7 separate regions of the Homo sapiens genome follow, and all the other regions are linked to region 6. The links come from fine-mapping of genetic effects on gene expression. A gene starts in region 6. Each other region holds a variant in brackets. All regions are shown on one strand. Distances are from middle to middle. Region 1 overlaps RGS12 (regulator of G protein signaling 12). Region 2 overlaps RGS12 (regulator of G protein signaling 12). Region 3 overlaps RGS12 (regulator of G protein signaling 12). Region 4 overlaps RGS12 (regulator of G protein signaling 12). Region 5 overlaps RGS12 (regulator of G protein signaling 12). Region 6 holds the start of RGS12 (regulator of G protein signaling 12). Region 7 overlaps RGS12 (regulator of G protein signaling 12).

The links. PIP is the estimated chance that this variant, and not a neighbour inherited with it, causes the effect.
Region 1: its variant is the best candidate, but not a certain one, in a credible set for the expression of RGS12 in CD4 T cells (CEDAR, PIP 0.88).
Region 2: its variant is the best candidate, but not a certain one, in a credible set for the expression of RGS12 in cerebral cortex (GTEx, PIP 0.79).
Region 3: its variant is the best candidate, but not a certain one, in a credible set for the expression of RGS12 in whole blood (INTERVAL, PIP 0.52).
Region 4: its variant is the best candidate, but not a certain one, in a credible set for the expression of RGS12 in unexposed skin (GTEx, PIP 0.67).
Region 5: its variant is the best candidate, but not a certain one, in a credible set for the expression of RGS12 in prefrontal cortex (CommonMind, PIP 0.64).
Region 7: its variant is the best candidate, but not a certain one, in a credible set for the expression of RGS12 in pancreas (GTEx, PIP 0.88).

The regions. Positions count from the first base shown.
Region 1 is chr4:3,338,524-3,342,583 of GRCh38, forward strand. The region is part of intron 2 of RGS12 (regulator of G protein signaling 12); the gene reads left to right. Among named protein-coding and RNA genes, the nearest start is that of RGS12, 48 kb to the left of the region's middle. The variant A/AGGTGCAGGCC (reference allele first, on the strand shown) is at 2,239.
Region 2 is chr4:3,429,820-3,433,879 of GRCh38, forward strand. RGS12 (regulator of G protein signaling 12) reads left to right here. Exons shown (of 18, transcript NM_001394154.1): 17 at 588-1,136. Among named protein-coding and RNA genes, the nearest start is that of HGFAC, 10 kb to the right of the region's middle. RefSeq lists enhancers at 3,249-3,750, 3,751-4,060. The variant T/A (reference allele first, on the strand shown) is at 2,236.
Region 3 is chr4:3,314,800-3,318,859 of GRCh38, forward strand. It overlaps RGS12 (regulator of G protein signaling 12), which reads left to right. Exons shown (of 18, transcript NM_001394154.1): 2 at 1,271-3,252. The coding sequence starts at 1,372. Among named protein-coding and RNA genes, the nearest start is that of RGS12, 24 kb to the left of the region's middle. RefSeq lists an enhancer at 2,558-3,112. The variant A/G (reference allele first, on the strand shown) is at 1,887.
Region 4 is chr4:3,388,650-3,392,709 of GRCh38, forward strand. All of the region lies in intron 4 of RGS12 (regulator of G protein signaling 12), which reads left to right. Among named protein-coding and RNA genes, the nearest start is that of HGFAC, 51 kb to the right of the region's middle. RefSeq lists an enhancer at 271-420. The variant G/C (reference allele first, on the strand shown) is at 1,939.
Region 5 is chr4:3,420,186-3,424,245 of GRCh38, forward strand. It overlaps RGS12 (regulator of G protein signaling 12), which reads left to right. Exons shown (of 18, transcript NM_001394154.1): 10 at 457-533; 11 at 2,191-2,385; 12 at 2,720-2,793; 13 at 3,330-3,456. Among named protein-coding and RNA genes, the nearest start is that of HGFAC, 20 kb to the right of the region's middle. RefSeq lists enhancers at 233-734, 4,001-4,060. The variant C/T (reference allele first, on the strand shown) is at 1,530.
Region 6 is chr4:3,291,105-3,295,164 of GRCh38, forward strand. It overlaps RGS12 (regulator of G protein signaling 12), which reads left to right and starts at 1,917. Exons shown (of 18, transcript NM_001394154.1): 1 at 1,917-1,995. RefSeq lists silencers at 1,223-1,332, 1,513-1,992, 2,003-2,052 and an enhancer at 2,706-3,291.
Region 7 is chr4:3,381,824-3,385,883 of GRCh38, forward strand. The region is part of intron 3 of RGS12 (regulator of G protein signaling 12); the gene reads left to right. Among named protein-coding and RNA genes, the nearest start is that of HGFAC, 58 kb to the right of the region's middle. RefSeq lists an enhancer at 3,761-3,840. The variant A/T (reference allele first, on the strand shown) is at 1,626.

The sequences.
Region 1 (4,060 bases), 47 kb after region 6:
GGACCCTGTAGCCAGGCAGGTTGATTGGCCTGAGGCCCTTGGTTCTCCCTGAAGCCGGCTGGCTCAGGCTGGCTCACTGCATCCTGGATGCCTGGGGGCCAGGGTGACCGGCCTCTGTGGTTGGCGGGCGGGCGGTGTCTGCTCCACTCAGTGCCCTTGAGTGCTGGGTGTGGTGGCCGAAGGCTGGGAGGTGGAGATGGTGCCCTGGGGGCCACCTGTCTTCTCAGACAGTCGTGAGGAGTCTTCTCAACTTAAAAGCTGGAGTTTGAACCAAGTGGTCTTTTAGGCCATTTTTATTGTTGTTTTCCCTGTTTAGTACTCTTTGGGGAAGAGTCAAGATTATGTCACACCAGCAGGGGTGCTAAATCGGCGGTGATGATCTGAATTTATTAATTTACAAAACTTTGTCAATTTGAGAAACACGAGTAAACGCTGGTCTCTCCCTGCTGTGGAAGTTGTCACATCTGTTACTGGCCCTCGTTCCATGAGTTGATTTAGTGCTTTGCAAGAATTGTTTTCTGTCTGCTTGTTAGACTTTTCCTTTCTCCTTTACATCTCCAAAGTGCACAGTGCATCCACGTGTGGGCAGGCGTCAGACATCCTTTCTTTTGCCTGTGCTGGGAACAAGTTGCAAGGCTGACTGTGGAAGGGCCGCTCACCTGGGGCGTGGTCAGGGCTGCCAGGTGTGGTGGCTCACACCTGTAATCTCAGCACTTTGGGATGCTGAGGTAAGTGATTGCTTGAGCCCAGGAGTTTCAGCTCAGCCTGGGCAACATAGCAAGACCCAGTCTCTACAAAAAATACAAACATTAGCCGGGCCTGTTGGCACATGCCTGTGGTCCCAGCTACTCAGGAGGCTGAGGTGGGAGGATCACTTGAGCCTGGGAGGTCGCGGCTGCTGTGAGCCATGATCATACCTCTCCCTCCGGCCTGGGCGACAGAGTGAGATCCTGTCTCAAAAGAAAAAAAAAATTAAACTCTCTTATCACTGTCCATCTAAATAACAGAGAGAGGCTCTCTGAAAGAAATGATGTTTATCTGGGAGCAGGGCATTGGAGTAGGCAGATACTTGCCATGGTCTACAGTGCATAGCTGGGGAGGCCAAAGAAGACAAAGGCTTTTAAAGGAAAAATGAGGATCACATGATTGTTTTGAGATAATTATCCTTGCCACAAGGATCAGCACCAAGGATGATACCAGGCTGGAGGTGGGCGGGCGGTTGCTGGGCAGATGTCCTCACAGTGTGTTTTGAGTGAGGCTGTGATGGCCTGTGTGCATGGCTGTGATTTGCACATCTTTGTGATGGATTTGTTTTTCGCAGGCACACTAATGTGTGAGCCCTCCCTTCATGGCCCTCCCCAGCTCTGTTTGTTAGGGTTTTTAACACAAGTGATTCATTTTGATTCTGACAGCCTTAATCTCACAAAGCCATGGGTTCATTCCCCACCCTTCTCAAGAGCAGAAAATACAGAATAGCAAATCTATAATGAGAACAAAGTCACTCATTGCTTTAGCAGTGGACTGAACATTTCCCGTTATTGCTGTTGCCGCAACACACGTCTGCATGCCGTACAGGTGCCCTGCGCTCCCCATTGTTGGGCAGTCAGTCCCCCGTGTTGTGGCCTCCGTGTCGTGTGTCTCATGAGCACTGCCCAGCGCCTTCTCAGGCCTCCCCTCTGCCGGGGCCGCACACCTGCCAGGAGCCGGGCGCTGTGCTGGGCAGCAAGTTTTCAGACAGCATCAGACGAAGCGAAGGGCGCTGCTGCTGTCGTCCCATGGCAGTCCCCTGGGGGAGATTCCTCATGGCTGACAGCGGTGTCACTGGTGGGAAGGAAAAGACCCAAAGACTGGGAGAGAGGACGCTGGGGAGTCTTAACTTAGACGGGGGCTTAAAGGTCTCTTACAAGAGGGGTTGTTTGGGTTGAGGGGTCAGGGGAGGGAAGAACATGCACAAAGGCCATGAGGCGGGCGCCCGGGGTGTGGACCCAGAGCGTGGACACGGACGCCAGCCTAAGCAGGAGGGAGCGGGGGTGGCAATTTATCAGTCACCACAGAAGAGCACGCTGGCAGGACACTCAAGGTGCCTGCCATCAGGAGCAGAGACACCAGGAAGCCACATCTGTGTCCTAATGGGACCACAGGTTCCCTCCAAAGAGTGTCTTACAGGCTGATTTACAGAAGGCAGGAGCTGGCGGGAGCCTGAGCTGAGCCCCATGGGAGCAGCAGGCAGGTGCAGGC[A/AGGTGCAGGCC]GGTGCAGGCCGGTGCAGGCCAGTGCAGTCCGTTCTCCAGCCTCGGAGGCACGGCGTGCACGGGGGCCTGCTCCTTAGTTTGAAAACAAGCAGTTGTGCCACTAGTGCCTTGGAGTGAGCTGGCAACTGTGGCGCCTCAGCTTGGAGTGTGCTTGACACCTGTGTTGGCCGGTCCATCTGGCACCTGGCCGCTGTGCTTCTAGGCCTCTGCCTGCCGGCTGCCCTCTGCTGGGCATCGCCACTTTCAGGATGACAGCCTTAGAGCCTTCTCTCGGCCTGGTGGGGGCCCAGTGGTGGCGTCCCTCCCCGAGCATCCTCTCGTGTTCCCGGCAGCCACAGCCCCTGGGTGCTGGACCTCTCACCTGCCAAGAGGATAGTGACACCCCTCTGCCCGTCTTTAGGGGCTGTGGGCGGAGGGGAGGGTGGAGAGATGGGGGTGTGGGCAGGGACAAGGGTCGAGAGATGGGGGTGTGTGCGGTGGGGAGGGGACAAGGGTGGAGAGATGGGGGTATGGGGGGAGGGGACAAGGGTAGAGAGATGGGGTATGGGGGGAGGGAGGGTGGAGAGATGGGGGTATGGGGGAGGAGGGGACAAGGGTGGAGAGATGGGGGTACGGGGGGAGGGAGGGTGGAGAGATGGTGTGGGCGGAGGGGAGGGTGGAGAGATGGGGGTATGTGGGGAGGGGACAAGGGTGTAGAGATGGGGGTGCGGGGGGAGGGAGGGTGGAGAGATGGGGGTATGGCGGGGAGGGGACAAGGGTGGAGAGATGGGGGTGTGGGGGGAGGGAGGGTGGAGAGATGGGGGTGTGGGCGGAGGGGAGGGTGGAGAGATGAGGGTGTGGGGAGGGGACAAGGGTGGAGAGATGGTGTGGGGGGAGGGAGGGTGGAGAGATGGGGGTGTGGGGGGAGGGGAGATGGGGGTGTGGGGAGGGAGGGTGGAGAGATGGGGGTGTGGGCGGAGGGGAGGGTGGAGAGATGAGGGTGTGGGGAGGGGACAAGGGTGGAGAGATGGTGTGGGGGGAGGGAGGGTGGAGAGATGGGGGTGTGGACAGAAGGGAGGGTGGAGGATGGAGGTGTGGGCGGAGGGTAGGGGCTGCAGAGGCCCCGGGGTGTGGGGTGGTGTGGGGCTGGGCCGTGACAATGGGTGGGGTAGGAAGGACTTTTCAGTTGAGGAGGAGCAGCGCAGTGCAGGGAGACCCAGGCGGGAATGGGTCTGAGGACATGATGGGGTGTGTCAGCGTGGTGGTCAAGGAGAGGGGAGAGGCGGGAGGGTGGCCTGCTCCATCTGCTTCCAGAAAGGTGCAGGCATGCTGTAGGTTTCCCTAGGGACTCTCAAGGAATTGTGGCAAGGTTTTCTACAAGACTCTTATGCAGGTGGAGAGACAAAAGTAGCTGCAGAGCCTCAAAATCTTGACATAAACAGGTTCCCTTCCTTCAAGCCTGAAATTGGTCACTTAGGATTCCAAGTCCTCAGGAAAGCAGAGCTCCCAACTGTGATGCTTTTTGTTTTTAAGAGGTGGCGACTGATTTGCTGGAGCCAGCTTCTCATCTGGGGAAGTGTCTAGCATAATGATGGGCACAACATAGATGTTTGTCGAATTGAATTAATTCTGGTCATTTCCTGGAGGAGGAGAGACAGGATGTTTTAATAGCCAGTTATTTCCTGCGCCGGAGTTGGTTGGGTCTTCAGACACCAGCTGAATGCTTAGGGATTCTTTCATTTCCTAAAGTGCTTACAAAATTATGAAAAAGCACGACTTTGCTGAAAACCTGCCTTCATCTTTACTAATCATCATACTAGTCATCTTTACTCTCAGTGTACT
Region 2 (4,060 bases), 140 kb after region 6:
TGCCCTAGGCCTGGGAGGACCACCCTCTGCCCAGAGGCAGTGACCCCGAGAGGCAGGCGTGGATTTGAGGGTGCCCCTTCCCAGACCACCCGTCTCAGGGCCTTCCTCTACCACCCCTCCTCGGGTTCATTCTGCTCCCGACTTTGAGGACTGCAGCTGCAGCTGGGACCCGGGCGGGTGCTTCAGATGCTGACCAACCGGAGGAGGGGGCCAGTCCTCAGAGGGCCCCAAGTGTTAAATTGAAAGCCCAGGCCAGAGAGTCCCACAGTTTCCTACTCAGACGGCATCAGCGCGTAACCGTGTTGAGTCAAGCGTCTCGTTTGTTCAAGTCTGGACCTCACACAGCGTGGTTTTTAGGGAGTACACAGCTTTTTCAGACTCCTGAAGACAGAGTATGCTAGAAGCCCCAGGGCTGTCCCTTCCGCTGTCTGTGGGAAGATAGTGTGGACGGAAAAGGGCTCTTGTTGACCCACAGCTGATAGGGTGTTAGGACAGCCCAGGATGAGAGCTTTCTAGAATGTTCTGCGGTGACAGTCATTAATGTGAAACTCTCTAAAACACGGTCACTCTGGGTTTTCTTCCAATAGAGTTTTTTGAGCTTATTTCCAAAGCTCAGAGCAACAGAGCAGATGACCAACGTGGGCTGCTAAGGAAGGAAGACCTGGTGTTGCCAGAGTTCCTCCGTTTACCTCCTGGTTCCACAGAACTCACCCTCCCCACTCCAGCTGCTGTGGCCAAGGGCTTTAGCAAGAGAAGCGCCACAGGCAACGGCCGGGAGAGCGCCTCCCAGCCTGGCGAGCAGTGGGAGCCAGTCCAGGAGAGCAGCGACAGCCCGTCCACCAGCCCGGGCTCAGCCTCCAGCCCCCCTGGACCTCCTGGGACGACCCCCCCCGGGCAGAAGTCTCCCAGCGGGCCCTTCTGCACTCCCCAGTCCCCCGTCTCCCTCGCGCAGGAGGGCACCGCCCAGATCTGGAAGAGGCAGTCTCAGGAAGTGGAGGCCGGGGGCATCCAGACGGTGGAGGATGAGCACGTGGCCGAGCTGACCCTGATGGGGGAGGGGGACATCAGCAGCCCCAACAGCACCTTGCTGCCGCCGCCCTCCACCCCCCAGGAAGTGCCAGGACCTTCCAGACCAGGTACCTCCAGGTTCTGATCCCTCCACCTTGGCCCCGTAAGCGTGGTCTGCTCAGCTTCCAGTCAGAAAGGACAGTGGGCCCCCGGCTGCCACTGTTTGCTGGTGGTCTCCGTGACCCCCTCCTCACCTGCTGGTTGGGGGCTTCCTTGGCCCTCTTGGAAAGGAGGGGCTCGTGTGGCCCCAGGCCAGTGTCTGTCAGGATGGTCCCCCCGAGGCGCTCTGGGCAGGCATCCTGGTGTCCTGAGAGGCTCTTGCAGGAATGATACGTGGCAGTGCCTGCAGCGAGGTCTGGGAACACCCTGGGTGAGGCCTGGGGGTTTCCGAAAATGGAGGCATTCCTTTCCAAATCTGGACAGCGATCGTTTTTAGTGTTTCTGTCTCAAGACTGGAAAACAATAGCATTTGTCTTGAGTGAGGAAGTGAAGCCCGCTGTGTTCATAGCAGGAGAGGGCTCCCAGACACAGGCCCGTCCTCGGAAGAGCCTTGAGAGTGCAGCTCGGACCCACCGGCGGCCCCCGTAGCAGGTGGTGTGGGTGCTCGGGAGTGGAGGTGACGTCAGCAGCGCTCTCTGACCGCGGGTGTCACGGGCATTTCTCAAAGGAAGCAGGGGATTCAGTGAGTGTGAAGGTGAACAGGATGGCCTGGCAGCAGGGATGTTTCCGTGAGCCACAAATACCAGAAACTGAGGCGAGGCTCCCAGCAGCCGGTAGGGAAAGGTGTTTCCAGGGGTCCGAGGGCCGTGGCCTGCGTGGCCATCCCCTGGAGAGAGGAGCCGCTCAGGGTGCGCGTCATGGAGTGTGCTCAGGGGTGCGTGGACACCTCTGCTGTGGTTTGCTGCTGGGGGCGATGGGAGCGCCTCTCCGTCCTGTGCCCTGGTCCAGGATGCTGACAGCAGTGAGAGGCCTGCCGTGAGGTTTGGTCTTGTCAGACCTGTAGCCTGGACCTCGCCGGGGGACCAGGGAGTGCACGTCTGTAGATCTGTACATATCTGGGCCTTTGGAGGCCACGTGTGGCATGGGAGGGGCTACCTGGTCCCTTTCACAGCCAGGACACGCCTGGATGAGAAAGCCTGAGGTGCCTGGCATGCCCACCGGTGCCAC[T/A]CTGCAGCCTCCACCCCTGGCCTGAGTCCCCCTCCATCCGTCTTGGTGGACACCTGTGTGGCTCTCACCTGCGTTTTGAGTCTGTTCTTCCAGGAGTAATAAATTCTGGACATCATCACTGGACTGGCTTACAACTTTTCTTTCTCATTTGAAACTTTGTTTCCACTTTAGAAAATAATAAAAGTATTTTAATCTAGGGGAAATATCACACATTTTTAGGAGATTAAGTGGATTTACCGTAATCTACTGGCTTTTAAAAATATACCATCCACTGAACAAAACTCTTGAGCACCTGGTGTGCTCCCAGCAGCACAGCTGTGCGGCGGGACAGCAGAAGAGCTGGTGGCCCGGTGGCGGGTGCTGAGATGAGCTGGCCTGCTGGCCTTCGGGCTGCAGTCCCGCACCCACACCCCGGCCCTGCAGCCCTGGGGCTGTGGCTGGCTCTGCGCACAGGTGTGGCGTGTGTCAGGCTGCCTGGGAGGGCCAGACAGACCCACGTGGGGGGTCAGTTCTCCTGCCTGCCAAGGGCCATTAGCACAGAGGTGGTTTACAGCGCAGGCCCAGCTGAGCGCCCCGGCTGACATCCCTGACTTGTTTGTGGCAGGAGGGTGGGTGGTACCGGCCTTGGGAGGAGCAGGTCCCCCTGCGCTCTGGTGGCTGCCCCGACTGCCACTGGCCAGAACTGGTTCCCCGCCCCGCTGGCTCCTCAGCCCCTGGGCAGGTGGGTACCCTGGATCCTTGGCTCTTGGGCTGTCTCCTAGGAGGAGACCCAGTGAGTGGGAGAAGGAGGTGGGAGTGGCTTTGGCCATAGGTCGTAGGTGTGTGTCCTCCACGTGCCTGTCCGTGGCGACACAGGACAACTGCTGAGGACCTGCCCAGTCTTCCTGTGATGTTGGCTCAAGCCTGCTGGGGGGCGTTGGGACAGAAACTGCTCTGTGCAGCTTGCTTCTGGAACCCCCACTCTAATGGGATTCTCTGTATTGGAGAGTTCACCTGCCCATGGCGGCAAAGGAAACAGGCTGTGAATGCCGTGGTGGCCTGATGGAACCTCTTTCACATCTGTGGGCCGGGGCGAGCCTGGACTGAGTGCTGACCTGTCCGTTTTCAGGGTTTAGGAGCTTGGGGGTCATCCCGGGTCACGCTCTCCGACGTTGACAGTTGCTGTGGGATGCTTCCTCACAATGTGGCAGCCGCCCTGGACCCAGCGTCCGGGGTGAGAAACACAACAGGAGGTGTAGCCAAGCCCACGGGCTCCCGCCCTCCCCATTGCCATGGTGGGCAGCATGCCGGCTACGCGTGGGGGCTGCCAGCAACAGCCTTGAGGTAGGGGGAGTCTCCACAGAGCTGTGCCACACCACTTTGCCCTTCCAGCCTCAGTGCCATGCACTGTGCCACCCTGTCCTAGCCCCAGTGCCACATGCCACACCACCCCATCCTAGCCCCAGCACCACGTGCCATGCCACCCTGTCCTAGCCCCAATGCCACATGCCACACCACCCCATCCTAGCCCCAGCACCACGTGCCATGCCACCCTGTCCTAGCCCCAGTGCCACATGCCACACCACCCCATCCTAGCCCCAGCACCACGTGCCATGCCACCCTGTTCCAGCCCCTGCGCCACGTGGTGCTCCACCACGCCCTTCTAGCCTCAGCGTCATGCACCGCACCGCCCCATGCTTCTAGCCCCAGCGCCACACGCCACGCGGCACTCCACCCCGTCTGTCTAGCCCCAGCACCACGCACCGAGACCGAGACCATGCACCATGCAGGCTGGCCGGTGCCCCCATGCATGTCTGGTCCCGGGAGGCATGTGGGTGGGTCTCCT
Region 3 (4,060 bases), 24 kb after region 6:
AAGAGTCTTGCAGAAGAGACTACACAGCAGGCCCGAGACCATCCTGAGAGGCCTGTGTGCAAGGCTGGCCCCCCGCTGGTGTCAGGACGGTGCCCACCACCCTCAATGAAGAGGGGCTCCCTGTGCTTAGCTGCTTGTGTGGGGAACAAGGTTTGTGCTGAGAACCTTCCTTTCTTCTGGGAGTCCAGAGTCTGGGCACGAAGCAGGCAGAGGGTGCCCATGTGCCCAGCCCCCAGTAAAAACCCTGGCACCGAGTCTCTAGTGGGCTTCCCTGGTGACGACACTGCACATGCGTTGTCACGGCTCACTGTGTAGGGAGTTAAGTGCGTCCTGCGTGACCCCGCTGGGAGAGGATTCTGGAAGCTCAAGCCTGGTTTCTTTGGGACATCGCCCCATGGACCTCTGCCCTTGCTGATTTTGTGTGGAATCCTTTCGCTGTAATGAATCTCAGCTGTGAGAGCACCTTTGTGCCAAGTCCTGGGAATCCTAGGGAATCACTGGCCTGGGGGTGATCCGCGGACCACTGACAAGTTTGTTCTCAATGACAACCAATACTTTTATACCCCCTGGAAGAATTGAGTTAATATGACATTTCTGCTTTTTTAGGTGGTGGTTTTTATCTAGCCTGTTGAGTGGCCTCTGCAGTATTGATCGAGGTTGTTTCAGGCTAATACGTTTTCCCCCACACAGTATATTCAAAATAAATTAATGTGGGAGGGTCATGGAATATTAGGTGACCCCTCTCCTGAGGGAAAACTCTATGTCAGGGGATTTATGATCAACTAAGGGGTTAGACTCAGTGTTCTGCAGGTGCCTTTGAACCTGAAGCCTGTAGCAGGCCTTGCTTCTCACGCTTGGACTCTGCCATCCTGTGAAACGTGGGTTTGGGTGTGTTTCTTCTGTGTGGAGCCCGAGAGTCTGCCTTTCAGACGGGCTGCCAGTCCACGGACCACACTTTGAGTAGCAAGGGGCTCTTTCCATCCAAACAGGGTGTGGAAGCAGTGCTGGGAAGCAGTCCTGCATCCTCACACCCGTGGCAGGTGGGCCTGGCAGGAACTTGTGTGGTAACAAGGTAGCAGTTGTGGGAGACATTTTCTACTCCGAAAGGAAGTTTCTTAGCCTGACTTGAAGATTTATTATCTATAGACACTTAGAGGCTCTTTCTGTGGTGGTTTTTATTATGAATTATCTTTTTGTGTTTAGCTAATACCAGTGAGTGGTGGAGAAAGATGGGCTCTTTAATAATGAGCTGTTCGTTTTTCTTTCTTAGGGCACTGTTTGAAGAAGCAAACATGGTAGCATCAAGCATTCCTTGAAATATGGCTCCAAGGGAACAATGAGACGTGCTCTTGGTCTTGGAAGCTCATCAGAATGTTTAGAGCTGGGGAGGCCTCCAAACGCCCATTGCCTGGGCCGTCGCCCCCAAGGGTGCGGAGTGTGGAGGTTGCCCGGGGGAGGGCCGGCTACGGATTCACGCTTTCGGGACAGGCACCCTGTGTGCTCAGCTGCGTCATGAGAGGGAGCCCTGCGGATTTCGTGGGCCTCCGAGCTGGAGACCAGATACTTGCTGTCAATGAAATCAACGTGAAAAAAGCATCTCATGAAGATGTAGTGAAATTAATTGGGAAGTGCTCTGGTGTCCTTCACATGGTGATTGCTGAAGGCGTCGGCCGCTTCGAATCCTGTTCCAGTGATGAAGAAGGGGGACTCTATGAAGGAAAAGGCTGGCTGAAGCCCAAGCTGGATTCTAAAGCACTAGGTATAAACAGAGCAGAGCGAGTCGTGGAGGAAATGCAGTCTGGTGGAATTTTCAATATGATTTTTGAAAACCCGAGCCTTTGTGCGAGCAATTCAGAGCCCTTGAAATTGAAACAAAGATCCCTTTC[A/G]GAGTCGGCCGCAACTCGATTTGATGTTGGACATGAAAGTATAAATAATCCAAATCCCAACATGCTTTCTAAGGAGGAAATATCAAAAGTTATTCATGATGATTCGGTTTTCAGCATTGGACTAGAAAGTCATGACGATTTTGCATTGGATGCAAGTATTTTAAACGTGGCGATGATCGTGGGCTACTTAGGCTCCATTGAGCTTCCTTCCACGAGCTCCAACCTGGAGTCCGACAGCTTGCAAGCCATCCGCGGCTGCATGCGGCGCCTGCGGGCAGAGCAGAAAATCCACTCGCTGGTGACCATGAAGATCATGCACGACTGTGTGCAGCTGAGCACTGACAAGGCTGGAGTCGTGGCCGAGTACCCGGCCGAGAAGCTGGCCTTCAGCGCCGTGTGCCCGGACGACCGGCGATTTTTCGGGTTGGTTACCATGCAGACGAATGACGACGGGAGCCTGGCCCAGGAGGAGGAGGGCGCCCTGCGGACTTCCTGCCACGTGTTCATGGTGGACCCAGACTTGTTTAATCACAAGATCCACCAAGGCATTGCTCGGCGGTTTGGGTTTGAGTGCACGGCCGACCCAGACACCAATGGCTGTCTGGAATTCCCGGCGTCCTCCCTCCCCGTCCTGCAGTTCATCTCTGTCCTGTACCGAGACATGGGTGAGCTGATTGAGGGCATGCGGGCCCGCGCCTTTCTGGACGGGGACGCCGATGCCCACCAGAACAACAGCACCAGCAGCAACAGTGACAGCGGCATTGGGAACTTCCACCAGGAGGAGAAGAGCAACCGGGTCCTTGTGGTGGACCTGGGTGGGAGCTCGAGCAGACACGGCCCCGGAGGCAGCGCGTGGGACGGTGTGGGTGGGAGGGGTGCCCAGCCCTGGGGTGCTCCCTGGACTGGGCCCTTCTGTCCGGACCCCGAAGGGAGCCCCCCATTTGAGGCCGCTCATCAGACTGACAGGTTCTGGGACCTAAACAAGCACCTAGGGCCAGCCTCTCCTGTGGAGGTGCCCCCAGCTTCCTTGAGGAGCTCAGTCCCCCCTTCCAAGAGGGGCACCGTGGGTGCTGGCTGTGGTTTCAACCAGCGCTGGCTCCCGGTCCACGTGCTCCGGGAGTGGCAGTGCGGACACACCAGCGACCAGGACTCTTACACAGATTCCACCGATGGCTGGTCCAGCATCAACTGCGGCACACTGCCCCCTCCTATGAGCAAGATCCCCGCAGACCGCTACAGGGTGGAGGGCAGCTTCGCGCAGCCCCCGCTGAATGCCCCGAAGAGGGAGTGGTCCAGGAAGGCCTTTGGAATGCAAAGCATTTTTGGTCCCCATCGAAATGTTCGAAAGACTAAGGAAGATAAAAAGGTAAGCCTGCCAGGAGCCACTCAGCGCGGAGGCCCGGCCTCCTCACTTAGCAGTCACGGGGAGGTGACTCCCAGTCACCAGCTTGCACAGTCCTGGCTTCCTCCTGCTGGCCCTGTGGCCTCTGTGGCCATCACAGGGTGTCTGCGTTGCCTGTGGGCTGCGGACTGTGTCTTGCTGGGACCTCTTGCCCCCTGCCCTGTTCGAGTCCTTGGTTCTGGTTCTGGCTCTGATGGCTGGTCCTGGGCAGGACATCTGGGCAGGACTGGTGGTGGCGAGAGGGAAGTTGTTGTCTTGGAGCTCAGGATAAGGCCCTTCCTCCCCTTCCTGCTCCTCCCTAGCTCTGTCCCTGTGGCTCCTTGAAGCCCATTTTAGGTCTGACCCCAGAATCTTCATCCCAGTGTCCCACACCCCTCTTGAGGCGAGAATATTCTTGAAGCACTGAAAGCTGGTTCCTCGTGCTGTTTCCTCCATGGGGAATATCCTGTTGTGTAAAACACCAGCTGGACTCCGCAGTGGGCCTGGGGAGCCCCACGCCGCCTGCTCACTGAGGGGTACCTCAAGGTGTGTAGTGCTGCCTTGAAGACCTGGACCCATCAGCATCCCTTTGGGGGCCCTGCCTTTAGGAGCTAAGTTTGGAGCAGGAAAGAGTAAATGAGCAAAGCTGGGAACCCTCTGGAAGGGACTTTGTCCAGCAGGAGGCGGTGCTGCCAGTGTGGGAGTGTGCGGGGCTGTGCCTGTGCGGTTGGGTGCAGGGAACCCTCTGGAAGGACTTCCTCCAGCCAGAGGCGGCGCTGCCGTGTGGGGCTGT
Region 4 (4,060 bases), 98 kb after region 6:
CCCTCCAGCGCCTGCAGCCCCTGCTGCCCCTTCTGGTGCCTCAGGCAGAAAGAGGCCCCCTCCCCCACACCCTGCCCTCCACGGCAGTGACAGGAGCCTGGGCGGGGTCGGGGTGGGGGGGTGGTCCCAGGGAAACTCTGGCTGTGTTTCCACACAGAGATCTTTTTATAGGCTGTGGTCAGTGGGAGACTCAGTGCACTGAGGTGGGCCTGGGAACTCCAGCACCCCAGTGTTTTTATGGGAAAAATGCTCCCCGAGTTCCAAGGAGGGACTGAGGAGTTGGCTTGGGGAGCAATCTGCTCAGCTGGGCTGTCTCTGCCTGGTCATCCTGTCTAGTTTTGGTGATTAATAGATCACTCACTTAGAAATATTTTGTGTTCAACGAGCCGTGCCAGTGAGAGAGTTCGTGTTCATGCCACGGTTTCATTCTGTGACGCGTATCGTGCTTTTATAGCTTAGGCTCTCGCTGGAGAGTTTTAGTTTTGTGGCTCGGTTTTAAGGAAGTTGGACTATGCTATTTTGGCAATCTTTGTCAAGTTGGAGTGTGTTTTTTCACTTTTTCAGAAGAAAGGGGCTGATAATGGCCACCCGTTTGTAGCCAAAGAGTGCCCTCGGGAAAAAGGGTTACAGCTGGTCTCTGGGGGGCACGGCAGGGCTGTGGGTGGGGGCAGGGAGCAGATTCCAGCTGGAGAGAAGGAAGCACATTCTAGCATTATAGAGAGGCTTAGCAGGGGAATGGTCTGCCTTGTGGGAAGTTATTCAGACAGAAGTGTGAGGTCGAGCTGGAGGGAGATGGGGCGTTGTGAAGAAATGAGAAAAGGAAGATGCCCGGTTGCTCCTGGAAAAAGGAACCTCTCACCTCTCCTGGTCTGGCTCTGCACAGAGCTGGAGCCGCGGCCGCACAGAAGCCCGTTCTTGTGGCTTCCTCCGTTGGTCAAGCTCTGTGCCAAGAGGCCTGCCAGAATCCCCTCACCCACTGCAGCCTCCACAGGTGGATGTTCCCGCTGTGACCACCTCACCTTCTGAAGTCGGGGTGTGGAGACTATCGGGGAGCTCCCAGAGCGCCCACCTCCTCCTGCGTACGGCGTCTGTGCCAGCAGGAAAGCCGGGGAACTGTGCGGCTCTGGCTTTGGGGGACGGTGGCAGGTCCACATGACACCCCACATACATGACCCCGGTGCTCCAGCTGCTTCTCAAACACTCCGTTCTCGCAGCCTCACCCTGGGGACCCCCGACACGTACTAGTCGCAGTCCTCCATCCCCATGTCCTCCTCATGCCTTGTGCCTCAGCTCTGCCCTGACCCCACTCTGTCCACTCAGCTGCCCCCCTACTCGTCCTCCATGCAGACCTCAGTCTTGGCCCTGTCTCTGCAGCCATCCTCCCGCTCCCTTCTCCTGAACGCTGGTGGTTGCCCCCACAGCAGCAGCAGTGATCTGCCCAGCCCCTGCACTGGACCCCTCCACCAGCTCAGAGCCCCTGTTCCCCCAACCATCCTGCGTCCCACCCTGGTCTCCAATGGTGCCTCAGGCACATGCGGTTTCCCTCTTCCCTTCCTGACCACCTGCCCCCATCCTGAGCGATGGCCACTGTCAATTTCCTGCCCGTGCTAGGGGCAGCTTCCATCATTTTAATTATTCATCTGTGTTGGTGCTTTTGTCCCCCCAGCTGGTGTGACCTCCACGTGGCAGGTCAGAGTTGTCCCGGCACCCGGCACAGCGGCTGGCACGAGAGCTGTCTGTTGAGTGAATGATCGGGTGTTCAGCAGACATCAGCCAGAGCGTCAGGGCGAGGCTTGGGCGGGGACAGTGGCTTTCAGTGATTTTCCTTTTAGTCGTGAAACCTTCTCAAAAAGCACACACAAGCACAGAAGCAGAAACTCCTGTGTGACTGGTGTTGCGGGGTGGACCCACTGCCGCCGCCTCCTCCTGGGCTGCTCT[G/C]CGCGCCTGCCAGGCTCTTCCAGTGCCTTCACCCAACACGCGGGCCTTTGGAGCTCAGACCTGGCCATGGCGGAAGATTCGGGCTCCACCTGCAGCTCCACAGCTGACAGGCCGATCTCTTGGGGCAAGTCACTTTCTCTCTCCTAGCCTTGTGTCTTCATCTCGCCGGTCCTTGTTAGCGAACAGGCACTGAGGCCTGGGGAGCTGTCACAAACGGCTGCCTGATGGGGGAGGGTTACCGTAATTGCCGGATTAACTTGGGGGACTTTAAACTGCATTCCTCTTTAAAATATAAAGTATAATTGTTGATATTTTTGGCAAATGCCAAAATTTGTATTCTATACAATTTTGAAAGAGAAAGGGAAAAGCTTGAGAGTAGAACCATCAGTACTTACATAGAATTAGTTGATAAATTTACATTTTCCTCATCAGAAAAACAGTGCAGCCTAATTGCACATTTTCCAAAAATGTTTGCTAAATAGCAGAAACAGAATGTTAATTTGTAATGCGCTATTGTGGGAGTGGTTGTTTTAACCAGAACCCTTTACTTGATTTAATATGTCACATTCTTTTGGTTTGCTTTTGGACTTCAAAATGATGCTCAGAATCACACAGTGTATTTGTAGGGTGTGGAATACCGTATTAGTATTTGTAAACAGGAGTCAGACTGGAGATTTTCAGTTTTGGAAGTGTGGAGACTTGATTTCTGCCAGGATGCCTTCCGATGTACTTGTTTCTTTCCAATTCTACAAGATATTTGGAGAGTTTTTATTACTAGTTTTTAATATTGTGAAATTATTTTTTCAAGCAAACAAATTCAAAGGTAATAAAACCACTAACTGCATACCTATCTTCCAGAGTTAACGTGTGCTAGCCAGGGGGCCTGTGCCTGAGAATTGACTCAGGGCTGGGGTGACCACAGAAGCCCTTGGTGCCCCTGCGGCTGCATCCCCTCCCCAGAGGCCACACTTGGAAGCAGGCGCCACCCCTTCCCACTCCAAGGGAGTTTCTTAGTTAGATTCTTGGGGAAAAGATAAAACAAACGAAGAACTCCTCTCATGCAACCCTAGGCGTGAGAAGCAGTGTCCGCCCTGTTTGGTGGTCTGGAGGCCATGTCAGAGAGGGCTGCCTGGCGTGTTTGGGGGCCTCGTCAGAGAGGGCTGCCTGGGGTGTTTGGGGGCCTCACCAGAGAGGGCTGCCTGGGGTGTTTGGGGGCGTCAGAGAGGGCTGCCTGGGTGCTCCAGGGAAGCTCCTCCTGCTCAGCTTCTCGGTCTGGGAGGATGTTCACCTGCAAAACTCCACCAAGCCATATGCTCATAATCTGTGCACTTTTCTGTATATCTTAATAGTTTACTAAAATAATTAATATTTTAAATTTCTGGAACTTTTAACCTAAGGACTTTCAAAATGGTCTGAAAATGTTAATAGATTTGCTCTCAGGAGAGTATGTATGAAGTTTGCAGAAAGAAAGCATTATGTAGATTGGATTGAAAATCAGATTGGCCAAAATGATTTAAGGAAAAGGTCTAGAAGTAGATCCTGAGTGTGGGGAGAGCTCAAGGGCTTTTCTCAGGGACAGGACCTGTGCAGTTTTATGCAGTTGAGGAAGATCCTTCCCCTACCCCCAGGCTAGATAGACTGTGGGAAGAGATCCCCTCTGGGCATACCACCTAACAGAAAGCTTTTAAGACTTTCTCCTTATTGTCGGTTTTCAGCAATTTGATTATGATGAGTCTCAGGTTGGTTTTTCTGTGTCTGTTGTGTTTGGGATTTGTTGGGGTTCAGGTATTTTTTTCATTGTTTCCCACTTTTGAGACTCTAATTATGCAAGCATGTTAGGCCACCTGGTTTTCCCTTCAGCTCATGGAGGCCGTTTCATGTTCAGGCTTCTGTGTCGCCTGCATGCTTGCCATTTCATTGTTTCTCTTGCTCTATCCTGCAGTTCACTGATCTGTCATTTTAGTGTCAGATATACAGCTCATTCCCTCCTGTGAGGGAATTCCTGCCGATCAGCCTGTCATCTCAGAGACTGTGTTTTCATCTTTAGCAGTTCCTTCTATTTTTTTCATTTCTTTCTACTGATTCTCTTCACGCTTTGCTTTAAAACCCCAAAAATGTTGGC
Region 5 (4,060 bases), 130 kb after region 6:
GCTGAGAGCGCTGGCTGTTGCCACAGTTGGGGGTTTCCAGTTAGGCCCAGAAACTACATTTGGGGATGAAAGCTCCAGATGGAATGGAGGAAAGGCCCTTACCGGGACATGCACCTGGGTCTGTGCTGTGTAACTGCACGTACTGATGTGATTTGTTGGGCACCTGCCATGAGCCAAGCATGTTTTGGAGCCAGGATGTGGCAGTAGACAGGGCAGAGAGTAGCATCTCTGCTGCATGGTGGGTAGAGCCTTGTTGGTCCCTGACTGGCTTCCAGGGTTAGGAAGACACATGTGACTCGTCTCCACCAGAGACGGCAAAGTGATGCCTGGTGGGGGATGGGTGGGGGGGGCTTCCTGGCGTCTGTCTGCTCAGCCTAAAGGGGGCAGAGGGTTGGGAGATGTGACCGAATAAACAGGGTTCTGATTGACGTGAGTCACTGTGTTTCCCCTGTCAAGACGCCCTGCATGCCAATGGAGGCCTGTGTCGCCGAGAGTCGCAGGGCTCTGTGTCCTCTGCGGGGAGCCTGGACCTGGTGAGTCACTGTCTCCCCTCGTCCCACAGGCCTCAGGGGTGTCCCCACCAGCTGACTGATGACACCTCTCTCCCATGGAAACCTGTGTTTACAAAACTCAGCGTTCACTTTGTAAAGCTGGGGGACAAGGCTCGGGTGCCGGCCCAGGCACAGTGGCAAAGTGCAGGGTGGCCCAGTGCCCCATCAGGCCCCGGCCTCATGGTCCCCCAGCCTAGGGCTCCTGAGAGGGCACGAAAAACTATTAGTTATACGAGGGAGGGAACTCAAAGTATCTTTGGATTTATTTCTTAAGTCTTTTTGTTGTAATTTAGTTTTTGTGAACTCCCACTAAGAATCAACAGAAGGTGTCGAAATCAGGCGCTCCCTGTCTCAGCGCGTGAGCATCCCACCCACTCCCACACTGCAGGATTTACCCCTCTGCCTGCGGGCCGCCTGTCTCACCCACACCCTCTCACACCTGCTCACTGCTTGGCTGGTGCTCGTCCTGGCCCCAGTTTCCAGCAGATGAGGGAGATGAGCAGGCGCAGGCAGGACTCGTGAGCTTGTTAGATGTTGTTTGATAGGAATTTTGGAAAACCTCACTGGTTGCCAGCATCCTGGTCATTTGAAATTTTCAGGCAGGAATGAATGTAGAATATAATTTCTTCTTCAGTTGTTCCAAATAACATTGAAAGCTGTAAGGATTTACCAGGTATCAGTTAGCTCTTGTTGCCTAATACCTCCGCACCCCCAAACTCAGAGGCTGGAAACAATTACTGTTGTGCTGGGTGTCTGGGTCGCCTGGGTGGTTCTGCCCATTCTGGCCGGCCTTGCCGTGTGTTTCTGGTTACCTGGCACGTGAGCCAGCTGGCTGGTCCCAGAGGCCCTCAGTTGCATGGCTGGCCCTTGGCTGGGGAAGGAGCACTGACAGGACCCTTCGTTCGCCTCACTCAGCGGAGGCCAGTTCACCCCGTCCCACAGCCGGCTCAGGGACCCTGACAGTGAGCAGAGTAAGGA[C/T]GGCCTCTGGAGGCCCAGGCTTGGAGCCGCTCCTTCTGCCCACCCAGGTCTGGGCTGGGGCTGACTCCACCTCTTCATGGGAGGAGCCACAGAGCCGCATTATGAGGGGCACAGATACAGGGAAGGGGATGGTTGGGAACCACTTGTGCAGCCAGCCTACCACTGTACAAACTAGTTTCCTGAAATAATGCTCAGGGAAAAGAGACCTCAGACTACCGGAAGGCAGTGCCGACGAAGTCACAGTCCAGGCGACGTTTCCATTGGAACGATGTGCATGGGGAGCTGTGTATAGAGAGGACAGGGTGCTGGAACCCAGAGCCCTGGGAGGGAGTGGTCCTCACAGGGCAGCTTCAGTGGGCCCCGCAGGACAGCCCTGCTTCTGGGTGGAGAAGCCCAGATGTGCCTTCTGAGCACGATGGCCCTTGAGGCCCAGAGCTGAGAGAATGATGACCGCTCTCTCGTGTTAATTCACAAAACCCAGCACCTCAGGCAGTGTGGACTGAGCCTGAGATGTGTGCACCTGGGGAGCTGCAGGTGGGACCGTGGCAGGGCGCCAGCCTCCCCAGCACGTGCGGCCTGGGCCAGCTGGGCTGCTCTGGGAGGTGCCCCGCACCCCTGTGACGCTGGTTCCCTCACGGCTGCTTGTCTCGCTGCTCCCCAGTCGGAGGCCTGCAGGACTTTGGCACCCGAGAAGGACAAGGCCACCAAGCACTGCTGCATTCATCTCCCGGATGGGACATCCTGCGTGGTGGCTGTCAAGGCGGGCTTCTCCATCAAAGACATCCTGTCCGGACTCTGTGAGCGGCATGGCATCAACGGGGCGGCCGCGGACCTCTTCCTGGTGGGCGGGGACAAGGTACTGGGCCCGCCTGACCCTCGTGCTGCCCTCAGGCCATGACCTCCCCGCTCCCTGGCCCCCAGCTTTGTCAGAGTCCTCAGGCTGCCCCCTCCTGCGCTCCTCATTTCAACAGCGCCTGGGGCGGAGGCCGGATTATCTGAACTGAGCTATCTGCTGGGAGCACTTTGCACGTGGGTGCTGGGTTGGTGTGGAAAGGGTGATCGCTTTCTTTGGATGGCTGTTTTTGAAGCTGCTCTTCTGCTCTGCACAGCTGTGTGCCTGGGGCACGTGGGTCTGCGTTTGGGGGGCTGCCTGCTGTGCCCACGTTGATTCTGGTCTCTCTGTTCCTCAGCCTCTGGTGCTGCACCAAGACAGTAGCATCTTGGAGTCAAGGGACCTGCGCCTAGAAAAGCGCACCTTGTTTCGGTAAGAGGAAGATCGCTGTCATTCACCTGAGGCTCCCAGAGCCAACCCCGTGTGCCCACCACCTGCTGGTCTCTGCGCTTAGCGGGCGGCCTGTGGATGCTCCATGCTGGGCTACGATGGGGTGTCGGGGCGGGGGGAGGGTGGAGGCCCACACGAGGCAGCCCCCCTACAAGCCCGGGGGTGAGAGGCGCCCTCTCCTCCCTGTCCCGTGAACAGGGACTGCCCTGGCCTGGTGAGCCCAGCCCCCTAAGATGCCGAGAGGGAGGGGCAGGAGTGCTCTCTGTAGGGTGGATGCCCCACAGGTAGCCAGGCTGCTGTGCAGGACACTGCTATCCCTGGAGGAGGAGACCATAGCCCTTGCTTGGCCTGACTTTTCCCACGTGGAGGAAGGCACGTTCTGATCAGCTGGGGCTGAACTGGGGGGCACACCGAGGCCTTGAGGGCGGCCTGGGGCTGTGCTGTAGTTCTGCTCGTGAGACTGATCTCCTAATGAGGGCTGACATGAGTTGGTAGTGAATTTTTTCATCCCCCACCAGGCTGGATCTTGTTCCGATTAACCGGTCAGTGGGACTCAAGGCCAAGCCCACCAAGCCCGTCACGGAGGTGCTGCGGCCCGTGGTGGCCAGATACGGCCTGGACCTCAGTGGCCTGCTGGTGAGGCTGGTGAGTGTTGCACGGGGCCCGGGCGTCGTCACCGCAGGCACTGTCTGTTCCCTTTGGCAGCCTCTGTGTTGTTCACTGAAGAGGGCACACCAAGAAGCGGTGTCTTCCCCTGATCTGGTTGTCCCCCTTGGAGGAGAGGAGACAGCCTCTGCCATCCCCAGTTCTCGTTCTGTGCAGTGGGAGCCATCATGGTTTATTTGTACCTTGGTCATTCCAAAAAGAATTGATATTTGAGAGGTGGTTTTGCTCCAGGGAGGCCAAAATGAGAAACAAAGCAACCAACCCTGGACTATCCTCCGCTGTTGGCCAATGTGATCAGATAAGAGAGTGCGGATGGCCCTGCCCCCACTGCACCTGCTGGGCCCGGGCATTGTGCTCATGCCCCCAGTGCACGGTCACATGGAGATGTCCTGATTCTCACCTGCACTTTGTAGATGGAAGAACTCAGCTGGCATTTCCAGGCTGCGCCATTATGATGTGAATGGGGTTAAGAAAGAAAACACCGCGTGGGGTGGTGACCGCAGGTGCTGGGCAGGCCACGCGAGATGGCGAGAGCTGGGCCCCGCTGAGGGTGCTCTGGAGCGTGGGGGTTCCGGGCACAGTG
Region 6 (4,060 bases):
TGGAGGCCGGGCAAGTGTAGAGGAAAAAGCCAAAGGGAAAGAAGAGACCTGCAGGTGGTGTTTCCCCATCTCTCACTCAGGGCCACTTGTCCCTGCCCTGGAGCCTCAGGAGGCTGAGCTCTGCGGCCTGCTTCCTTCTGGCTTGGCGCTGCTCTGGAAGATTCCACCATCTGCGCATAGGCAGGAGCCAAGAAGGTCCACAGTTTTGGGGGGGCCAGGGTGGGGGCAGTTTCTTTCCTGGCTCTTTTTTTTTTTTTTTTGAGATGGAGTTTCACTCTGTCACCTAGGCTGGAGTGCAGTGGCACAATCTCGGCTCACAGCAACCTCCGCCTCCGGGGCTCAAGTGATTCTCCTGACTCTGCCTCCCAACTAGCTTCGACTATAGGCGCGTGCCACCACGCTTGGCTAATTTTTTGTATTTTAGTAGAGATGGGGTTTTGCCATCTTGCCCAGGGTGGTCTCGAACTCCTGAGCTCCGGCGATCTGTCCGCCTCAGCCTCTCAAAGTGCTGGGATTACTGGCACGAGTCACCGCGCCTGGCCTCTTCCCTGGCTCTCTCTGCTGGGTCATCAAGGGCTGGCTGTGTCCCTTGGCCATAGGTCGCAGCTCCTGTTAAGTATCTCTCTCTCTTTGTCTGGCTTCCTGTAACCGCTCTGGCCGCGCTCCTTCAGCCCTGCAGGTGAAAACAGTTCCCTCCCTGCTGTTACCTGTCCCAATTCAGCACCGCCCTGTGGCTTCCCGGCTCCCGGACCGCGCCTCTGCCAGCGGGAACCCTGCTGGACTCTTAATTAATTGTCCCACTGAGAATGCCATTGGTTTCCTCCTGGGATCCAAACTAATCACACAAGACTAGATGATGGAGAGCTGCCAAGAAACCATGGGGCGGTGGCGGGGACGGAGGGGAAGCGTTTTGAGCCCATCAAGGCAGGTGACAGGAAAGAAGCAAACCCGAGAGGGGCCGAGTCCCTGGGCGGGCGGCAGGGCTGGAGCGTGAACAGCAGCGACGGATGCGTCTCGAGGGAAAAACGCGGCGGGAGAGAATGAGGGGAAGGCAGGAAGGAAGGGGCAGGGAGACCCAGCGCCGGGGAAGGAAGACACGAAGAGGGCGAGGAAGGAACTCCGGCCTAAAGGGTGAAGGCGGCGGCTGGGACAGGGCCAGAGGCGCAGGCCGGGGCCGGGCAGCTCCTCCTCTCGTGCCAGCGGTGCCTCCGGTCCCGCCCTCGCTGCTGCCCGCGCTCCGGGAGGGGCAGACCCGCTGGACGCCGCAGTCACCGCGCCGCCTTCGCGGGCGTCCCGGGGCCCGGAGGGAACGGCCTTTCCTGGCTGTCCCCGTGGCTTCGCCGCGGGAACTCACGCCGCCCCCGAAGCTGCCGCCAGCTCCGGGCATCTGCCCAGCCGAAAAGCCAGGGCGCCGGGGCCTGACTCCCCACAGCCAGGTTTCCCGGGCACAGAGACCCAACGGGAGCGGGACTTCCTCGGACACCGACGGCGAAGGACAGAGACAGCCCAGGCAGGGGCGGCTCCTCCCGGCCACACCGACCTGCCCTTCGCAGGGTGTCCCGGGCCAGCGGAGGCAGAGAAAACCAGCTTGCGGGAACGCAGTCGCTCCCAGCACCAGGGCCGGGCCAGTGCGGGTACACACCGTGCGCACCAGCGCCGCCGCGCCCCCAACGGAAGTCCCGCCCCCGGCCGTGGAGGCCCCGTCCCTCGCTTCTTCTCATCCCTGCTTCCCTGGCAGTCCCGTTACCACGCTGTCCCGACGCGAAGGCCCTCGCCCCGCCCCGTGCCCCGCCCCCGCATCGCCCCGCCCCAACCCCACCCCCTTGGCCCCGCCTCACCAGGTTCGCCCCGCCCCTCTCCGTCCCCGCCCCTCCTCCGGCCTCGGCCCCGCCCTCGCCTCGACCCCGGGGGGCGGTGGCTGCCGAGGCGACCGTTGCGCGCGCGGGCGGTGGCGCGGGCCGAAGCGCCCGGAGCGGGAGCGAGCGGCGCGGCCCGGTAGGTGTGCGGGGCCGGGGCCGGGGCGGGGGCAGGGCGCGCCGCCTCCGCTCTTTCTTTCGTCTCCGGGGCGCGCGCCCGCGCCCTCCGCCTCCCGGCCGATCCCGGCCAGCCCTGCGCGGCGCCCGTCCCCTCGGGGTCGCCGCCCGCCCGCCCTGCCTTTTGTTCGCCGGCCTGACTCAGGCTCCTGGTCCCGGGCCCGGCGCGGGGCGGGGCGGGGCGGGGGCGGGGGCGGGCGGCGCGGGGCGCGGGCCTGTGGGGCCTCCGGCCGGGCGGGTGCGCGGCCTCCTGGGGCCCCGCGCTGTGAGGCCCGCCCGGGCCCTTGGCGGGACCCGCGGGGGCGGCGCCGGGCAGGGGGTCCCGCGGGCGAGATGCGCCCGGGAGCGCTGGGAGGGTTCCCTCGTCGGACTCCACGAGCGGCCGCTTTGTTAGGGCAGAAGCTGCCTTCCGAGACCCGAACTCCAGACGCACTGCAGCGACCTGGGGTCGCCTCAGCCGCGGTGCCGCGATTGTGCAGTGTAGACAGAGGGGTCCCAGAGCCGTGCGGTGTAGACAGAGAGGGGCCCAAAGCTGTGGAATGGGGACAGAGAGGGGACCCAGAGCTGTGGAGTGTAGACAGAAAGGGCGCCCAGAGCCATGGAGTATAAACAGTGGAGTGTAGACAGAGAGGGGGCCCAGAGCTGTGGAGTGTGGACAGAGAGGGGGCCCAGAGCCGTGGAGTGTAGACCGAGAGGGGGCCCAGAGCCGTGGAGTGTAGACAGAGAGAGGGCCCAGAGCCATCTAGTGTAGACAGAGAGGGGACCCATAGCTGTGGAGTGTAGACAGAGTCTCATAGCCGTGCAGACAGAGAAGGGGCCCAGAGCCATGGAGTGTAGACAGTGGAGGGTGAACACAGAGGGGGCCCAGAGCCGTGGAGTGTGGACAGAGAGGACCACCTGGCCTCTCACCTGCTTGGTCACTTGCTGGGAATGTGTCCCTGGGCAGGTGACCACCTTCTCTGTGCCTGAGTTTCCTCATTGGACCTGTCTTTGGAGCTGCTGCAAGGGCTAAGAGTGTCTTTGTCTGAAGTCCTCAGCGTGGTCCATGCCGTCCTGTGCAGGGCCCTTCTGAGGCCACAGGGACGTGCAGGATGGCCGGCAAGGCCTGCACAGAAGGGGCGCTGGGGGGCCTTCCCAGGCAAGGCAGCAGCCCCACCATTCACAGCAAGGAGACTACCAAGGAGGGCAGAGAGGCGGCTTTGGGCAGCAAGGGCTGCTGGGGTGGAGTCCTGCTGGCCTTCCCCTAGAGAAGGCGACGTGGGGAGGGCAGAGCAATTCTGAGTAAGGGAGAACCAGTTTATATTTCACTTTAGAAAGTAATTGTCACAGTGCGAAGTTTCTTCCCCTGAAAAAGCGATATAAAAAGGTCCATCGTGGCCAGTGCTTTTGGGGACTTGAGATGATGGGTATCCGGTGCCCGGGCCCTGCGTGGTGCCTCAGCTGGATGCTCTGCAGGTGGGGGAGGCCATGTTGGCTGAGGGCAGGGGCTCAGGCAAGGGCAGTGGGGTGGCTGAGCCTGCACAAGTTGGTGCACCCCTGTCTGGGTCTTTTTCTTAAAACTGCAAGTCCAGCCTTATCTCTGAGACCTCCTGAGGCTGGAACCTGCCATCAGACAGGCTTACAGTTCTAGCCCTGGTAACTGCAATGATGCGGATGCCTCTGTGACTGGCAGAGCAGAGGGAGGAGCGACAGGGCAGTGGTGACCGGAGGTCTCAGGGAGGTTGACAAAGACAAGGGCGGAGGAAAGGCCCCTCACGTGGACTGGAGGTACAGTACTGACCTGTGGAGTGCTCAGGAGAGGGCAGGGGTGGCGCGGCCTGAGGGCATGTCCTGGGGAGGGTCAGGAGGTGGGAGGGAGGCACTCGACAGGCACTGCAAAGAGGAGGGAATCCAGGGTCAAGGGCTGGCTCCCTTTCTGCCCTGTTTAGGATGAGGGTCTCGGGGAAGAAGGGGTGGCCAGGCCGAGGAGACCTGTGGCGCTGGGAGCTGGGACTCAGTGAGGTCCTGGAGGTGGTGAGGGCCCAGAG
Region 7 (4,060 bases), 91 kb after region 6:
TCATGACTTTTCCTGACAAGATTACTTAATTTGCAAAGAGATCATTTATAATTACCATGAATCTTACTGCTTTTGTTTAATGAATATACCTGGGAGTGAGAGAGCTGTGCACTGTGTAAACTGGGGTCCAGCCACCTGTATGTGAAGGCCAGAGGCTTCCCTGCCAGCACCCAGCACCACTTTGTACACCACAAAGTTTTATTTGTCAAAAAATAGTCGTAACGTCACCGTTCAAGGGCGGTTGACTGCTGTTAGCTTTGGATATTGTTCCTTTGTGGCTAGTTACGTCTTTTCAGTATTTAAGAGTGTATTTTCACAGATCTTACATTTTAAAGAAAATTTTACATATTTGTGATTATACCATGATATCATTTTGCATTATTTTTTCCACTTGCATTGATGACATAACTTCTAAAAGTTCTTGTCAGAGATATAATGTCCCTTTTTGAAATGAAGAAAGGAACCGCAAGGTGCCCTCTCCTTCCCTGCCCTTCCTGATGCTGAGACAAGCCCTCAGTCCCTCTGCCTCCTCCTCAGCTCCACTCCTGAGCACAGACAAGCCCAGCCGTGGCCTGGAAGCGACACTGATGATTAGTATATCTGTGCTGAGTGCCGACTGGATGCTGTGCTGAGCCACTGTGGTGGGTGTCTTGATTCCTGTGACCACCTTGGGAGATCAACATCATGGGATCCACTGAAAAGTCTTGCTGGCTTGCATTAGTCCTGCTCACAGCACCATTTGTAGGTGACGGTCTTCAGGAGTTCTCCACAGTCGTTTTTGAATCTCAGATCCTGAGGAGACCACCTCAGTTCTCTGCTGCTCTCTCTCTCTCCTCCTTATTTTCTCTGCCCATCCCTCTGTACTGTGGTCAGTGTAATTGTTTTCAGTTCCATCTTCCAGTTCCCAAATCCTCTCTTCAACTGCCTAATCTCTGTTTAGCCTTCCTATTGAATCTTTAACTTCACTTACTGTATTTTCACTGTCGGACATTCCATATGGTTCTGTTTCCGACCTGCACTGTGCTCGTGTTCTGCTTCAGCCTTTGTTTCTCGACAGCTTCACAGATGGTTACTCAACGCTCTGCATTAGATTGTTCCCATGTCTGAGACTCTGCTCATTGTTGTCTCTGCTGATACCCACTCATGCTGGGCTTCTCCTTGGGTTTTTCATAGTGAACTCATATTCGAGTGGGCTCACTATCTGGAACTCCTGAGGGCCCCTGTTGGGCTGTTTTCTTTCTGGAAGGATTTGCATTAATATATGTGGCTTCCAGGAGTGTTGCACCTAGGACAACACTACTCCCCGAGGGCCATGGCTGAGCTGGATGGAGGATCTCAGGTTGAGGGGACAACCGTGCTGTGGCTGAGGCTCACTGCGGGCTACCCGGCCCTAGTGGCATTGGCATTTTCTAACTGCTTCCCCCTCTGTTCCTTCCTCGTCTCTTTTCAGGGATTTCCCTTTACTCTTTTTGGAGTAGCGGTATATTAAAAAGCATGTTTGGGTGGGGCATGGAGGCTCACACCTGTAATCCTAGCACTTTGAGAGGTCAAGGTGGGAGGATTGCTTGAGGCCAGGAATTCAAGACCAGCCTGGGCAACAGAATGAGACCCCATCTCTACAAAAA[A/T]TACACAAAGTAGCTGAGCATGTTGGTGAACTCCTGGATCCCAGCTACTTAGGAGGCTGACATGGGAGGATTGCTCAAACCCAGGAGGATTGAGGCTGCAATGAGCCATCATTATGCCACTGTACTCTATCCTGGTGACAGAGCGAGACTGTCAAAAAAAAAAAGTATGTGTATCTCTCTACTGTCTTTAAAATAATTTTTTCCATAAATTTAAAGCTGTTTGAAAAGGTAAAGTTTACTTTTAAAACAGCTCTACACTTTACCTGCATCCGTGCACTGTCTTAGAGCCTCCCAGAGGCTCTGGTCTAGCCCTACGTGCCCGCAGCCTGTGCCCATCACAGGAGCAGCGATGGCCCATGCCCATATTCTTTGGCCTCTCAGTGGGCATCACACACTCCCTGGCCACCTTCTCCTTCAGTCTGTTTGGCCTCTGGGACACTCCTCTCTCCTGGTTCTCAAGTTTCAGCTAATTTGGGGGATGTAAATGCTGCGTGTATAGAGGTTTTCTAGAGCACTTTGTTCGGCCTGCCAGATTCTGAGAATTGAATTTTACTCATGAGCGTGACATGAAGTGAAACACCTCCTTCATATTTATGAAGTTTACATTTTATGATTTATCTTTCAGATCTTATTGACAGCATTTCTGATTTTGTGTATGGCCTTGTGGATTTTCTTCTCATAATCTCAAAGGTATAGATTGCCTGTGATATTATTTATTTATTTTAAGACGGAGTCTCACTCTCTCACCCAGGCTGGAGTGTAGTGGCACGATCTCGGCTCATTGCAACCTCTACCTCCCGGGTTCAAGCGATTCTCCTGCCTCAGCCTCCCGAGTAGCTGGGATTATAGGCATCTGCTTCCACGCTCGGCTAATTTTTATATTTTAGTAGAGACGAGGTCTCTTCATGTTGACCAGGCTGGTCTCGAACTCCTGACCTCAGGTGATCCACTCACCTCGGCTTCCCAAAGTGCTGGGATTACAGGTGTGAGCCACTGCGCCCAGCCTTCCTGTGATATTATTTAGATTGCGACATGATTGTGGATGATTTATTGCGGGCATGGAAGGAATGACAGCCTTCCAAAATGTGTATGTCAGCATCTGTGACGTGGCTGCCCCAGAGCCTCTGATAAAAACCAGTTCCTGCGGCTGAGGGCCAAGGGCCACATGGTGGCTTCAGGGGTGTGTGCTCTTTCCCCTTCCTGGCCAATGAGAGGACAGTGAAGAGATGGATGCAGGCTGCTGTGTGTTTTCACTACTGGGAAGTGGGTTGGGGGGCAGGACCCTCCGAAGCTGGCCCCAGGTGGTCTCACACAGTGCCTGTCAGGGGGCTTACTTTGGGTGCCAGAGGACAGACTCTGCGGGGGAGGAGGATGCGCATAGCTGGTGTAGGTCGCAGGGCCAGGGCTGGCAGTGGACCCCGGATGGCCAGGCTGCGTCGGGGCATGGTTGCCCTTGCCGGCAGGCTGGGAGGCAGGGCTGGGGCCCTGTGCCGAGGTTGGGGTGGTCAGACAGGATGTGCAGAATTCCAGTGGGTGTACCGCTCGTGTTAAAACCCATACAGTGTGTGTCCCGGAGGGCCACACGGTAGGGGCAGCAGCTGGAAGCCCTGGCTCCTTTTCCTTGGTCCCCTCCCCCTTGGGAGGTTCCTCTGGGCCTCACTTGTTTGGACTTTGGCGTGGGGGGGTCTTAAAGCCCCAGTGACCTCCACTTCTCGGGAGTGGCCAGGAGGTACCAGGTTGCCCATCACGGCAGCACCTTCTCGTTCGCTCCCCTGGCCCTGGCAGCCCTCGCCTTGGCAGAGAGGAGGACAGAAGTGGGTCCTTGCCAGGCCGTCTGGGAGGTCCCCGCAGGAAGGGGTTCCTGCCTAGATAGCAGCAGAGTGCCTGCCCAGGGATCAGATCAAACACGGGTTTGTCCAGCCTCTGGAGCTCCATTCTGCTCACCCCCTCTCACTTCCTGGCATCCGTGTCCCCTGGTGAGCCAGCCTCTTCTGATTCCTCTCCTTCCTGGGCTGAGTCCTGGGCTTGTCCCGTACCTGCCTGACGGCTCTGCGCCCTGGGCCCTTCCTGCCAGTGCAGTGCCAGGTCGCCCTGATCAGGGCTCCCGTTGGGGCCGCCGTGGCTTCCTGTTCTTTTCGGCTTCCTCCTGGCTCAGCTGACTGTCTCGAGTTCTCGGCCTCCTCCTGGTCACGCTGGCCTTCCGGTACCGCCTGCCACCCCTCCTTCATAACTTGACTTGTCTGTTCTTGTCCCTGGTGCCTTTAAGCCAGCCACCCTGCTCTCCTCCAGCCCCTTCCACTGTTCCAAGCCCCTTCCTCGGAGGCGTCTCCCCAACCCTCCTGCTGGTGGCCGCTCTTGCACTGCTTGGGTGGGCGGGCACCAGATCCGGGGCTTGGCTCTGGGCTTGACTCCTCTGCTGCCACCCTGAGTGGTCA